3 separate regions of the Homo sapiens genome follow, and all the other regions are linked to region 1. The links come from fine-mapping of genetic effects on gene expression. A gene starts in region 1. Each other region holds a variant in brackets. All regions are shown on one strand. Distances are between the middles of the regions.

The links. PIP is the estimated chance that this variant, and not a neighbour inherited with it, causes the effect. A credible set is the group of variants that fine-mapping cannot tell apart.
Region 2: its variant is the best candidate, but not a certain one, in a credible set for the expression of LINC02899 in thyroid (GTEx, PIP 0.53).
Region 3: its variant is the best candidate, but not a certain one, in a credible set for the expression of LINC02899 in monocytes after LPS (Fairfax 2014, PIP 0.87).

The regions. Positions count from the first base shown.
Region 1 is chr5:23,949,350-23,953,598 of GRCh38, forward strand. It overlaps LINC02899 (long intergenic non-protein coding RNA 2899), which reads left to right and starts at 1,999. Exons shown (of 5, transcript NR_131245.1): 1 at 1,999-2,454. RefSeq lists an enhancer at 2,209-2,708.
Region 2 is chr5:24,165,520-24,169,768 of GRCh38, forward strand. All of the region lies in intron 4 of LINC02899 (long intergenic non-protein coding RNA 2899), which reads left to right. Among named protein-coding and RNA genes, the nearest start is that of LINC02899, 220 kb to the left of the region's middle. The variant G/A (reference allele first, on the strand shown) is at 2,583.
Region 3 is chr5:24,832,173-24,836,421 of GRCh38, forward strand. LINC02239 (long intergenic non-protein coding RNA 2239) reads right to left here. Exons shown (of 3, transcript NR_037896.1): 3 at 3,108-4,249. Among named protein-coding and RNA genes, the nearest start is that of LINC02239, 6.3 kb to the right of the region's middle. The variant TA/T (reference allele first, on the strand shown) is at 2,360.

The DNA.
Region 1 (4,249 bases):
TTCCCCTTCCCCTTCTTTCTCTTCCTCTTCTTTCCTCCTTCCCTTCCTCCCCCTTCCCCTCCCACTCCTCCTCCTTCTTCTTCTTCTTCTTGATAGGGGCCGGAAGCAGTGGCTCATACCTGTAATCCCAGCACTTTGGGAGGCTGAGGCGGGTGGATCACCTGAGGTCAGGAGTTACAGAGCAGCCTGGTAAACATGGTGAAAGCCCATCTCTACTAAAAATACAAAATCAGCCAAGCACGGTGGCACACATGCAATCCCAGCTACTCAGGAGGCTGAGGCAGGAGAATCACTTGAATTCCGGAGGCAGAGATTGCAGTGAGCCAAGATGGCGCCAGCACACTCTAGCCTGGGCAACAGAGTGAGTGAAATGAATGAGACTACATGTCAAAAACAAAACAAAACAAAAAGAAAGGCAGGAGTAATGACTTCCAAGTTTTCTACACATCAAAGCTGTAACTGGAAGACTCTCACTATAGTTTTTTAATTTCTCTTTTTAAATTGTTTTTAAAAACTTTGACAAAAAAGACATAACTTTAGATTTGTTTTTTTTTTTTTGGAAATTTTGTTACCAGATGGTTTATTGATTGATACTAATCCTAAATCCAAGAGTTGTCATTAAGTATACAAATAGTATTTTAATTATGAGTATCAATCCAAAATTTAACTGTTTATGTAAATTTTAAGTGTAATAATAGTTGTGTGTGTACATGCATGTACACATTAATACTAAGAAACAGACCCAGCGAAGATAATATGTATGATACAAAATGAGATACTTCTCAACAAACATTCACTCCTTTCTGGCTCCATAAATTTGGGATTTGCTCTCTGGCTTACGGTGGTCAAAAGAGAGTAAAGTGAGATATAAGCAAAGGCTATACCTATGATTCAGGAAGTTGGCCTGTCTTTTTGCTGTTTTGGATCTGCCATCAAAAGACAGTGATTTGAGGAGCTGAATAGTAACCAATGATTTAAAGAGAGTTAGGAAATATATGGAGGAGATTTGCATGTAATTTGCAGCTTAACATTAAGTCAAGACAATCATATATGAGTCTAGTAGAGCAATAGTCACCCTTCAAACATGGAAATATGGGCATAAGCGTTAGAAGCCAGAGTGAATTAGTGTTGATTACACAGCAAGAAATGGCTTACTAAAAATGTAATGTTACTTACAATATGTGGAATTACAACCAAATGTATTAATCAACATAACTACATCACATGGGTAAAAAAAGAAGTTATATTGTACAATTTAAGATGTAAATACTCCTTTTTTTCTCTAATATATGAAGTTAAGTCTTACATAACTCTCAATGACTGAAGATAAATACAATTGTGTAATTAAAGAAATTTGCTAAGATAATTATCTCTCCAATTTATAAATGAAATATATTATTTAACTATTTAGATATAAATTATAAGTGATAAACGAGTGAGAAGAACTTTTAGAAGGGGTCAAAATTAATTAAGCAAGATTTTTTTTTTTTGCTAAATGCCCATCTCACAGGTTTTTAAAAAAATTTTTTTTTGCTAAATTATAACTAAGCAAGTTTCAATGTTTTTTAAGATGTATAGGTCATGAATATAATTTTACTAATGTCATATGTGGTGTGAGATAAAATATTTGAGGCATTTTTGAATTGCATCCAGATTCTACACTTTGTTTCATTAACATTTTCAAATAAATCTTAAAGTATTATAAATATTTAATATTTAAAAATTTTGGAACTCATCAAAGATATTGAGAGGTGACAACGTGCTGGCAGTCCTCACAGCCCTCGCTCGCTCTCGGCGCCTCCTCTGCCTGGGTTCTCACTTTGGCGGCACTTGAGGAGCCGTTCAGCCCACCGCTGCACTGTGGCAGCCCCTTTCTGGGCTGGCCAAGGCCGGAGCCGGCTCCCTCAGCTTGCAGGGAGGTGTGGAGGGAAAGGCGACAGCGGGAACCGGGGCTGCGCGCGGCGCTTCCGGCGCTGCGCGCGGCGCTTGCGGCCAGCTGGAGTTCCGGGTGGGCGTGGGCTTGGCGGGCCCTGCACTCGGAGCAGCCGGCTGGCCCCGCCGCGGCCGAGCAATGAGGAGTACACCCTCCGGGCCAGCGACTGTGGAGGGTGTACTGGGTACCCCAGCAGTGACAGCCCACCGGCGCTGCGTTCGATTTCTCGCTGGGCCTTAGCTGCCTTCCCTCAGGGCAGGGCTCGGGACCTGCAGCCCGCCATGCCTGAGCCTCCCACCCCCTCCGTTGGCTCCTGTGCTGCCCGAGCCTCCCGGATGAGCGCCGCCCCCTGCTCCAGGGCGCCCAGTCCCATCGACCACCCAAGGGCTGAGGAGTGCGGGCGCGCGGCGCGGGACTGGCAGGCAGCTCCACCTGCAGCCCCGGTGAGGGATCCACTGGGTGAAGCCAGCTGGGCTCCTGAGTCTGGTGAGGACATGGAGAACCTTTATGTCCAGCTCAAGGTTTGTAAATACACCAATCAGCACCTTGTATCTAGCTCAGGGTTTGTGAATGCACCAATCGACACTCTGTATCTAGCTACTCTGGTGGGGTCTTGGAGAACCTTAATGTCTAGCTCAGGGATTGTAAATACACCAATTGGCACTCTGTATCTAGCTCAAGGTGTGTAAACACACCAGTCTGCACCCTGTGTCTAGCTCAGAGTTTGTGAATGCACCAATGGACACTCTGTATCTAGCTAATCTAGTGGGGACGTGGAGAACCTTTGTGTCTAGCTCAGGGATTGTAAACGCACCAGTCAGCGCCCTGTCAAAACAGACCACTGGGCTCTACCAATCAGCAGGATGTGGGTGGGGCCAGATAAGAGAATAAAAGCAGGCTGCCTGAACCAGCAGTGGCAACCCGCTCGGGACCCCTTCCACACTGTGGAGGCTTTGTTCTTTCGCTCTTTGCAATAAATCTTGCTACTGCTCACTCTTTGGGTCCACACTGCTTTTATGAGTTGTAACACTCACCGCGAAGGTCTGCAGCTTCACTCCTGAGCTAGCGAGACCACGAACCCACCAGAAGGAAGAAACTGAACACATCCGAACATCAGAAGGAACAAACTCCAGACGCGCGCCACCTTAAGAGCTGTAACACTCACCGCGAGGGTCCGAGGCTTCATTCTTGAAGTCAGTGAGACCAAGAACCCACCAATTCTGGACACAATAGTATCTCATTGTGGTTTTGATTTTCATTTCTGTAATGATCTGTGATACTGAGCTTGATACAGGTTTTTTGACCACATATATGTTTTCTTTTGAAAAGTGATTGTTCATGGCTATTGCTCACTTTTTAATGGGGTTGTTTTTCCCCTGTAAATTTGTTTAAGTTCCTTATAGATGCTGGATATTAGATCTTTGTCAGATACATTGTTTGCAAATATTTTCTCCCATTTTGTAGGTTGTCAGTTTACTCTGTTGATAGTTTCTTTTGCTGTGCAGAAGCTCTTTAGTATAATTAGATCTCATTAATCAATTTTTACTTTTGTTGCTGTTGTTTTTGGTGTCTTTATTATGAAATACTTGTCAGTTTCTATGTCTATAATGGTATTGCCTTGTTGTCTTCCAGGGTTTTTATAGTTTTGAGTTTTGCATTTAAGTCTTCAATCTATCTTGAGTTGATTTAAATATATATGTATGTATGTGTATATATATATAATGAAAGAGAGGGGTCCAGTTTCCATTTTTTGCATATGGCTAGCCAGTTACCCATTTATTGAATAGTCCTTTCCCTATTGCTTATTTTTGTCATTTTTATCAAGGATGAGATGGTTGTAGGTGTGCAGACTTATTTCTGGGGTCTGTATTGTGTTCCATTGGTCTACGTGTCTGTTTTTATACCAGTACCACACTGTTTTGATTTCTGTAGCGCTATAGTGCAGTTTCAAGTTGGTTAGATATGCCTCTATCTTTGTCCTTTTTGCTTAGGATTGCCTTAGGCTTTGTTTATTTGTTTGTTTCTAATGAATTTTAAAAGAGTTTTCTTTTCTAGTTCTGTGAAGAATGACATTGGTAGTTTGACAGAAATAGCAAATCTGTAAATTTCTTTGGACAGTAAGGCCATTTTAATTATATCGATTCTCTCTATTCTCAAGCATAGCATGTTTTTCCACTTGTTTATGTCATCTCTGATTTTTCGAGCAGTGCTTTGTAATTCTCATTGTAGAGATCTTCCGCATCCCTGGTTAGCTGTATTCCTAGGTGTTTTATTTTTTTGTATCCATTATAAATTAGATGGCATTCCTGACTTGAT
Region 2 (4,249 bases), 220 kb after region 1:
CAGCAGAATACCAACATAACTAGCTGGAGGAGCTGAAAGAATAATGGTATTTTCTGGGCCTATTTAGTGTGCGTTGTTGGATGAATAGAGTCATTCTCAGATTGCCAATAAATATTTTGAAACAGGAATAACCAAGATAGAAATATTAAAAAGAATTGCTGCATATGATCATTGTGCAGTGCACGTCACTGTTAAACTCACCCCTCTTTAAATTCTATTTCCATTTCATTCATAATATTATATTTTGTCAGTATTCCTTCTAACTTTTTTGCCATCTTAATTGACCTCATTTGTCCCCTTTACTCTGCTTTTGGTTCGTTTCTCCTTTCAATCTAATGTACTTGTAGAGTAATGTAATTTGTGTCCCACCTATATAGTGATAACCATTCATAAATGTTTAGATCCTTGAGAGAAGAAAATATTTTCTGGTATCAAAACTGAATTATATTAATTGCTCAATAACATTTGTTAAGTTGAACTAAGGGAATTTGAAATATAACTTGCAAACTTTTTTCTCTTCTTCAGACTCATACATTGAACTTTGTTGCATGCATATCTATAAATGCTTAACAGACATTTCACTCTCATTTATCCCAAAACATCTATCCCATTTTTCAATTCACACTCCAAACCCATTACGCTTGCATTTCCTCTCAGTTAAATTTAATGTCATCTACACAACCATCCTTCATCTCTTACTTACTTTATGCACCCGATCAAGTATCGATTCATGGAAATTCTCATTTCTGTATCTCAAATCCATCCCCCTTTCCACTCACTTCTACATCTGTCATAAGCCGGACCCTGGCAGAATTCACATGCAATTATCTCTAAATGGTCTCCCAGCCTCTAGTTCTAAATCATCTCAAAATTCTGCAGTAGAAGATTTTCAGACCTTTAGCAAATACCTTACTGTTTTATGCCTACTTAAATTTTTTTAATGGCTCACTGAAATAATTAGAGTAAGTGGAAAATGGTTTTATACAGTTCTCCATGATCTGTTTAGCAAAACACTGTGTTGCCCTGGGGTCAAATTGCCTGGGTTCTTAATCCATCCTCTATGTCATTAGCTTTGTGAAGTTATGTAAGTTATTTGACTATTCTGAGCCTTGATTTCCCCATCTGTAAAATTGATATGACAATAGAACCATCCCACAGAGTTGTTTTCAGGATTAATGAATGATCCATGTAAAGTGCTTAGAAGAATATGAATCACAATAAATCACTGAATAAGTGTTAGCTCTTCTAATTTTCCCTTTTTGATTAGGTAAACTTTTTGGCCTTTTTTTTTACTCATCCTTAAAAGCTCAAGTATTTGAAGAATCACTTTGACAAAGACTGAAATAATTTATATTTATCTGTTATAATGTATGTAACATTATATAAAAACAATCTCTTTAAGCATCTGTCTTCCCCATTGGAGAAGCAAGAAATATGTCCACCTAATCTCTATGTCTCTCACACCCAGAATAGTGCCTAGTAAATTGTAGCTTTCCATTTAATGCCTCCTGAACAGAACTAAAACGATTCTATATTTCTCAGCCCTCAACAGCTTGAAAATAAAAATAGACCGTTATAAGTGTCGCAAGCATTTTGAAGTTCTGTGCTCACTTACTCTTCAAAAGTTTTGGCCTCTTTCAAATCATTTTGAAATAGAGGATATTACCGTTTGCTCTGAAAATTGTTCATTATAGATACTTTATGGCATGTCTACTTTCCTCCATCCATCTGTACTATTATCTGGTGACATTTTCAGTCACCACAGTTACCCCTACAGCAGCTATGGTGCTGAAACCAGTATTGCTGCAGATAAATTATGGAATCCACATTGAGATTTTTTAATGTTTAATAGGGAGAGTACTAATCTTTTTCCCCCAAAAGTGGTAGTAGTTGATCTGCTTGCTTTTTCAAGGAAATAACACTGATAAGAGCTGACTGATATTTGTGCTTCCTTGACATACGGCTGTAATTAGCTGTTCACTGATATCAACAGAGCTGATGTATGTATCAAAATACTTATGTCCCATTTCTATTCAAGCCATTGCCAATGCTACTGGTGATACTTTGAACTCATGATGCCACAGAAATGCTAAGAAATTTTCTTTCACTGCTGTGTGTTTTTGTGTGTGTCTAATTGCAACTTGCGTGCCATTTAACCACATTATGAATTATTGGGGATGGAGCAGAAAGTAAAAGAGTGACACAAAGCAATGATGTGAAAATATTTATACCTTCTCCTAATATCTGGCCTTTGTTCTTTGAAAGAAACTGGAATATTTTACCATAAGTCTTCATAGTCTTTGTGCAAACACAGTATTTTTGGATCAACTCTCCTTTCACTCAGGTGCCTATTGTGTCTCAGGAAAATTAAGACTTTTTCTCAGAGGAGAGGCATTAATAAATAACAGATCATGGGTAAGCAAAGCTTGGATACAAAGCTCAATAATTAGCTACAAGTGGAATAATAGGAAATGAGTCATGTGCTTATTGTACAAATTCTAAGCACATACCATAGTCTTTAGCAGTTTGTGAAACACAAGAAAAGCAGAAAACAGTATCTATAATGAATCATCTTATAACAT[G/A]TTTGGGAAAAAAAGTATAAGGTATGTATTTCATAATTTAACATTGCTTATCATAAGTAATAAACTAGTGATGGAGGCAGTCAGTGGTACAGAGTTTGTGAAGGAGAACCTTTCTGAAGAGCATATAAAAGTGATAGAAGGTTGTGTCATATGTTGCGTTCATAAATCCAGGAAAAAGAAAAACATAGTGAGGTTATATTGGGCCTATTAATTAATGCTATTTTATTTTGAGCAGTGAAATACATTGTCAAAGTAGAATCCCAATTATTATCAATCAGAAACACCCATATTTGGACTGAAGGGAGAAAAATTATCTGTATTTTCAAATAAATATGCATATTTCTGGTTAACAATCATATCACCCTAAATATTGGAAGAAAAAGGTCAGAATAAGTTAAAATGCCAAAATTGTTTTTGGTATAACAATTTTCACACATATTCACATATATTTTAACAGGAAGTGTTTTTAATTCATTCTAACCCTATGAGATTTTCATTTGCAAATAAATTTGAGTCCTTTCAGCCTTGACTTAAATTGTGTATATAATAGCTCTCTGCAACGTAGAATAAAAGGCTTTTAAAAGGTTTAGAACATTTTGAGATAGAAAACAGTTCATGCAAAACATTGCGATGAGATAAATATAAAGAATGCGAAACCATATGGATTAATTTTCCTTTTAAATACAAATAGAATATGACACTATGAGAAAAGTCACTTGGAAGAAGAGAAGTGGATCACAGAGTATGAAAAAGTTTTTTGAAATATTGTTTATATATTACTTTTAATAACATAACTGAAATAAACTTACTTTAACATGTATTTTGTTTTAATGTATATTCATCACAATAAAATGATCATTTCTTTTTATGACATAAATCATGTTTCTTAAATAGTTTCAATTTATTCTGCACACTTTTTATTTATTTATTTATTTTTAATTTAATTTTATTTATTTATCTTTTTTTGAAGCGGAGTCTCGCTCTGTCACCCAGGCTGGAGTGCAGTGAGGTGATCTTGGCTCACTGCAAGCTCCGCCTCCCCAGTTCACTCCATTCTCCTGTCTCAGCCTCCTGAGTAGCTGGGACTACAGACACCCGCCACCACGCCCGGCTAATTTTTTGTATTTTTAGTAGAGAAGGGGTTTCACCGTGTTAGCCAGGATGGTCTCGATCTTCTGACCTCGTGATCCGCCCGCCTCAGCCTCCCAAAGTGCTGGGATTACAGGCGTAAGCCAACTTGCCCGGCCCAAACTTTTAAATATTGTCTACAGTTGGCATAATCCTCAGACCACAAGCTTTGCTCGTGTTCTCTCTATGTAAATAGAGAAGAAAAAGTGAAAATAAAATAGCTTGAACACATACAGGATTCAACATGCTAAGATGGTTCCTTGGTAATAAAGACATAGGCAAAGATCCTCCCACCTTGCTCTGCTGAATGATACTTTTGTTTTTAATACTTCCCCATCACTTCTTTAAAATATGTCTGATATGGTTTGGATCTGTGTCCTCACCCGCATCGCAGTTGTTATTCTCAATGTTGGAAGTGGGGCCTGGTGGGAGGAGATTGGATTATGCGGGCAGTTTCTCAGGAATGCTTTAGCACCATCTTCCTTGGTACTGTCGTTGTGATAGTGAGTTCTCATGAGATCTGGTTGTTTAAAAGTGTA
Region 3 (4,249 bases), 880 kb after region 1:
ATACGTCAGAAGAGACACACCCATGCAGTGACGTTTTGAACATTTGGCAATGTGTATTAGCACAGCTCTTCCCTTTAGCAAGATTTGTTTTGCGGTTCCAGATAGGTCATTTCCAGGCCTCATTCCGCCAAGGTAGTAAGCTAGATACGAGATATGTTTTCAGGGTGTAATTTGGCAATATGTTGTTTTTTTTTTTTCTGGCTATTTTATCACTGCTAATATCAGTAGAGTTTCCAACCCACATGTTGGCCCTGCTTCAGCCTTTACCCCACCAAACCATGAAATGAAAGTCAGTAGTTTATTTCAAAATCTGGGCCGTATTTGACAACATTGCCTTTTTTTTTTTTTTTTTTTTTTTTTTTTTTTTTGAGACAGTCTCACTCTTTTGCCCAGGCTGGAGTACAGTGGCATGATCTCAGCTCACTGCAGCCTCTGCCTCCCAGGGTCAAGCAATTCTCCTGCCTCAGCCTCCTTTAGTAGAGATGGGGTTTCACCATGCTGGGCAGACTGGTCTCGAACTCCTAACCTCAGTTGATCTACCCACTTCTGCCTTTCAAAGTGCTGGGATCACAGGCAGGAGCCACCATGGCCAGCCAACACTGCCCTTTGATTAGTAATATAAAAACTTGTAGGTTGATCTTAACAGCCATTTTATTTCATTTATCTTATACTGCAAATAGCAGAGAAATTTCTATAATAAAATATGTTTCTGGATTTCCTTGTAAATAATATTTTCTTATTTTTAGTTCCTAAGTGAGTTGAAGGTAAGAGAATTGCTTTTAAAGTGAATTTTAAAACCACTGTCTTTTCCAGAAACCCAAGCAAGCTTGTCAAATTGTGCCTGTGACAGAAGAAAGCAGCTACTTCTCTACTGACAGTCGTGATTTTCCAAATTGTTCAAACCTCCCACCATTTTCATGGGGAAAGTCTGAAATATCTGGACCAATGAATAATCAGAAATCATTAAGGAATAAGTAAGTGGGTCAGCATGATACCTTAGGTGAATGAAAATGTAGATAGAATAATAAAATTTGAAGAGGGATGACATGATAAAAATGCCACATCTTCTTTTATGATGTATCAAGATTCAGATATATTTTATATGTATACTTAAATACATAGTAAGTAATGGAACTTGGAATTTGGGGTATTTTTATGCTTCTACCATTTTATTTTTAGCCACACTGAGCATACAATGTAATATACTTTATAAAATATTCCCTAAATGTAAAAAAAAAACTCTAAAACACTGTAAGACACTACTGATTCCACAGATCAGATCATGTTACATGTGATTATAGATAAATATGATGCATCTCATATATTATTCCTTGTAAAACTTCTGACACAGATGTTATTATTGCCCTGGACAAAAACAATTTAATTAAATTTCAATATAAATTCTTGTAAAATGAACATAATACCATTTTTTTTAAGTCTAAAACAATAGAAGCATTTCTAAAAACAGAGAGACTATTTTCATCAGGTTTCACTGGTGATTAACACTGAACATGTTGCGGGAAGCATGTCTGTTTCAAATCCCACCCTCGTGTATAGAATTTGACACCAGATGGTTTCAAACTAACAAGGAATTAACAATTTGTGTGTTGTTAATTGTTCCATTATAAAAGTACTCTTGTGAAGTAAATAAGAAATACATTTCCATGGCATACAGCTGAAGATATAATTGTAAAGTAAAACAAAATGTGAACAAAAGTTTTGGTAATTGCTAAAATGTGTCAGAAAAGGCACAGTATCATTTTTTTAGAAAAACAATATTGCTTTTTTCCCTATTCTTTTTTCTTTTGATTATTTGAAATTAAATTCAGCACCACCATAATTTAAATATGTACAAAATATTAATGAATGGAATACACTCTGTGATGTGTAATTGTATGTGTCAACTTGCCTCTGAGTTAAGGAATAGCCAGATAGCTGGAAAAATTGTATTTTTGGTATGTCTTTGAATGAGTTTCCAGGAAAGATTATCATTTGAATCAACAGACTGAGTAAAAGTCTTGCTCCTCAATGTGGGTGGGCATCCCCCATTTTGTCATGTCCCTGAATAGAACAAAAAGGCAGAGGAAGGAAAAATTCACTCTCTCTCTTCTTGAGCTAGAACAATCATCTTCTTCTGTCCTGGAACATTGGTGCTCCTGGTTCTCAGACCTTCAGTATCAAACTCAATTATACCACAGGTTTTCCTAGTTCTCCAGCCTGCAGATGGCAAACTGTGGAACTTCTCGGCATCCATAATTGCATGAGCCAATTCCCATAATAAATTTCCATCTATCTGTCTACCTACCTACCTACCTACCAACCATCTAAGCATCTATTTTCTATCATCTATCTATCTATC[TA/T]ATCTATCTATCTATCTATCTATCTATCTATCTATCTATCTATCTATCTATCTATCTGGCATCTATCTATCTAATCATATGTCTTATTGGTTCTGTTTCTCTGGAGCACATTGACTAATGCACACTATAAATCTATCCAGTTGTATGTTTCAAGTGTTACCAATTTTACTTTTTGACATGTAGCTATCCTGTGTTGTTCCTATTTGACATACTGTGAACAGTACACATTGTATTGACAAGTGCATGATGGGGACAAAAGTCTGAATTCAAGGATTTTTAAAATATGTTGAGTACTTTTATCATAATTGCTATATATAAGAAATCTCATGTATTTATGGGAATTAGAACTCATAATGAAAGGCTAGGAAAGAAATTCTCAAAGTTTTTGTTTCAGGACACCGCTGCACCCTTAAAATATTGAAGACCCCAAATAATTTTGTTTTATGGCTTATATCTTTTAATATTTACTACACTTGAAATTAAAACTGAGATTTAAAAGTTTATTGAATAATTTAAAAATAGCAAGATTAACCCATTACATGTTAACCTAAATAACGTATCTTTCTAAAAATACATTTCTAAACTAAAAAATAATTGGTGAGAAGAGTAGCATTTTTCTACATTATTGCAGATTTAAAATCTATCTGGCTTATTAGGAAATAGTTGAATTCTCAAAACTCTTTTGCATTCAACCTATTATAATATGTTGTTTTGGTTAAAGTATAAAAAATCAGGCTTACACAGAAATATAGTAGGAAAAGGAATAATTATTTTAATAATGTCAAAGATAAAATTAAATTTGAGACAAAATTAGTAAATGCTACTTATTCCTGATCATGCAGCCTTAAAGGAAACTATCTGTGGCCATGCTCTTTTCAGCAGGATTCAAAGGTATTTGAAGGAAGTTTTGGTTTTATAGAGGAAAAGGAGTAAGTCCTGAGATAGATAGACTCTGATTAGCAAGTTTTCTTAACACTCTTACGGGATTTTTGAAAGTGGTGGAGACTTTCTAATTGTTCTTCAGGTACATTTTTGTGTCCTTGTGTCGTAGGACTTTTTCCTTAGTTCAGCTAAGAGCCAGTTTCTTGTCACATGGCCATGAGATATTAGACTCGCAGACACTTTGAAGGTTGAAAAAAATGGAATTTTTGAGCAAAAATGGACAGAAAGGGAAACAGGACTCTCTGCAAAGCTAGGGTCCTGCAAGTGTGCGTCCTGCCTCACAGATTGAATTCCAGGTTCCACCCAGGAAGAGGAGGGGCCAAGCTCCTCCCCACTGCAAATGAACAAACTTCCCGAGGCTCCATCCCAGTGTGCACTCATCCCAGGGACAGGTGGGTTGGGGGTTCTCTGGTGACCCCTTTATACTCAGCTCTCTCACTTGGTTGGCTGCAATTGGGTAGATAAGCGATTTGGGGAGATTTCAAAAGAGGAAAAACTTGCTTAATCTTCAGTGACAAACTCTCTGTAGCTAGCCATTTTGGGGAACAAGAGGAGGCTGATGGAATTACTTTTCTCACTCAAACTCATGCTGTTTTTATGGCAGGCAATCTCTCAATAATATATTTAGGTAATATTGCATATTCTTCTTTTATACTATACCAAAACTCCACAAAGTGTAGTCTATTAAAAGTTAGTTGCAATGTGTTAACTGAAACCGTATCAGTAAACTTTTTATCATCTGGTACATTAAAATCCATTGGTGTATTTTGAATTTGACTGGATCTTTTCCCAGCCTATGATTTTATAACCCTGTATATTTTTCAATTGGAAAATATTGTTTTATTGATTTATGCAAATCTCTCAAATGTTGGCACATTTAATTATAAAATATTTTTAAATAGCATCCATTTATATAATTACTGACCTTGTCAGAAAAGACTCCAAGA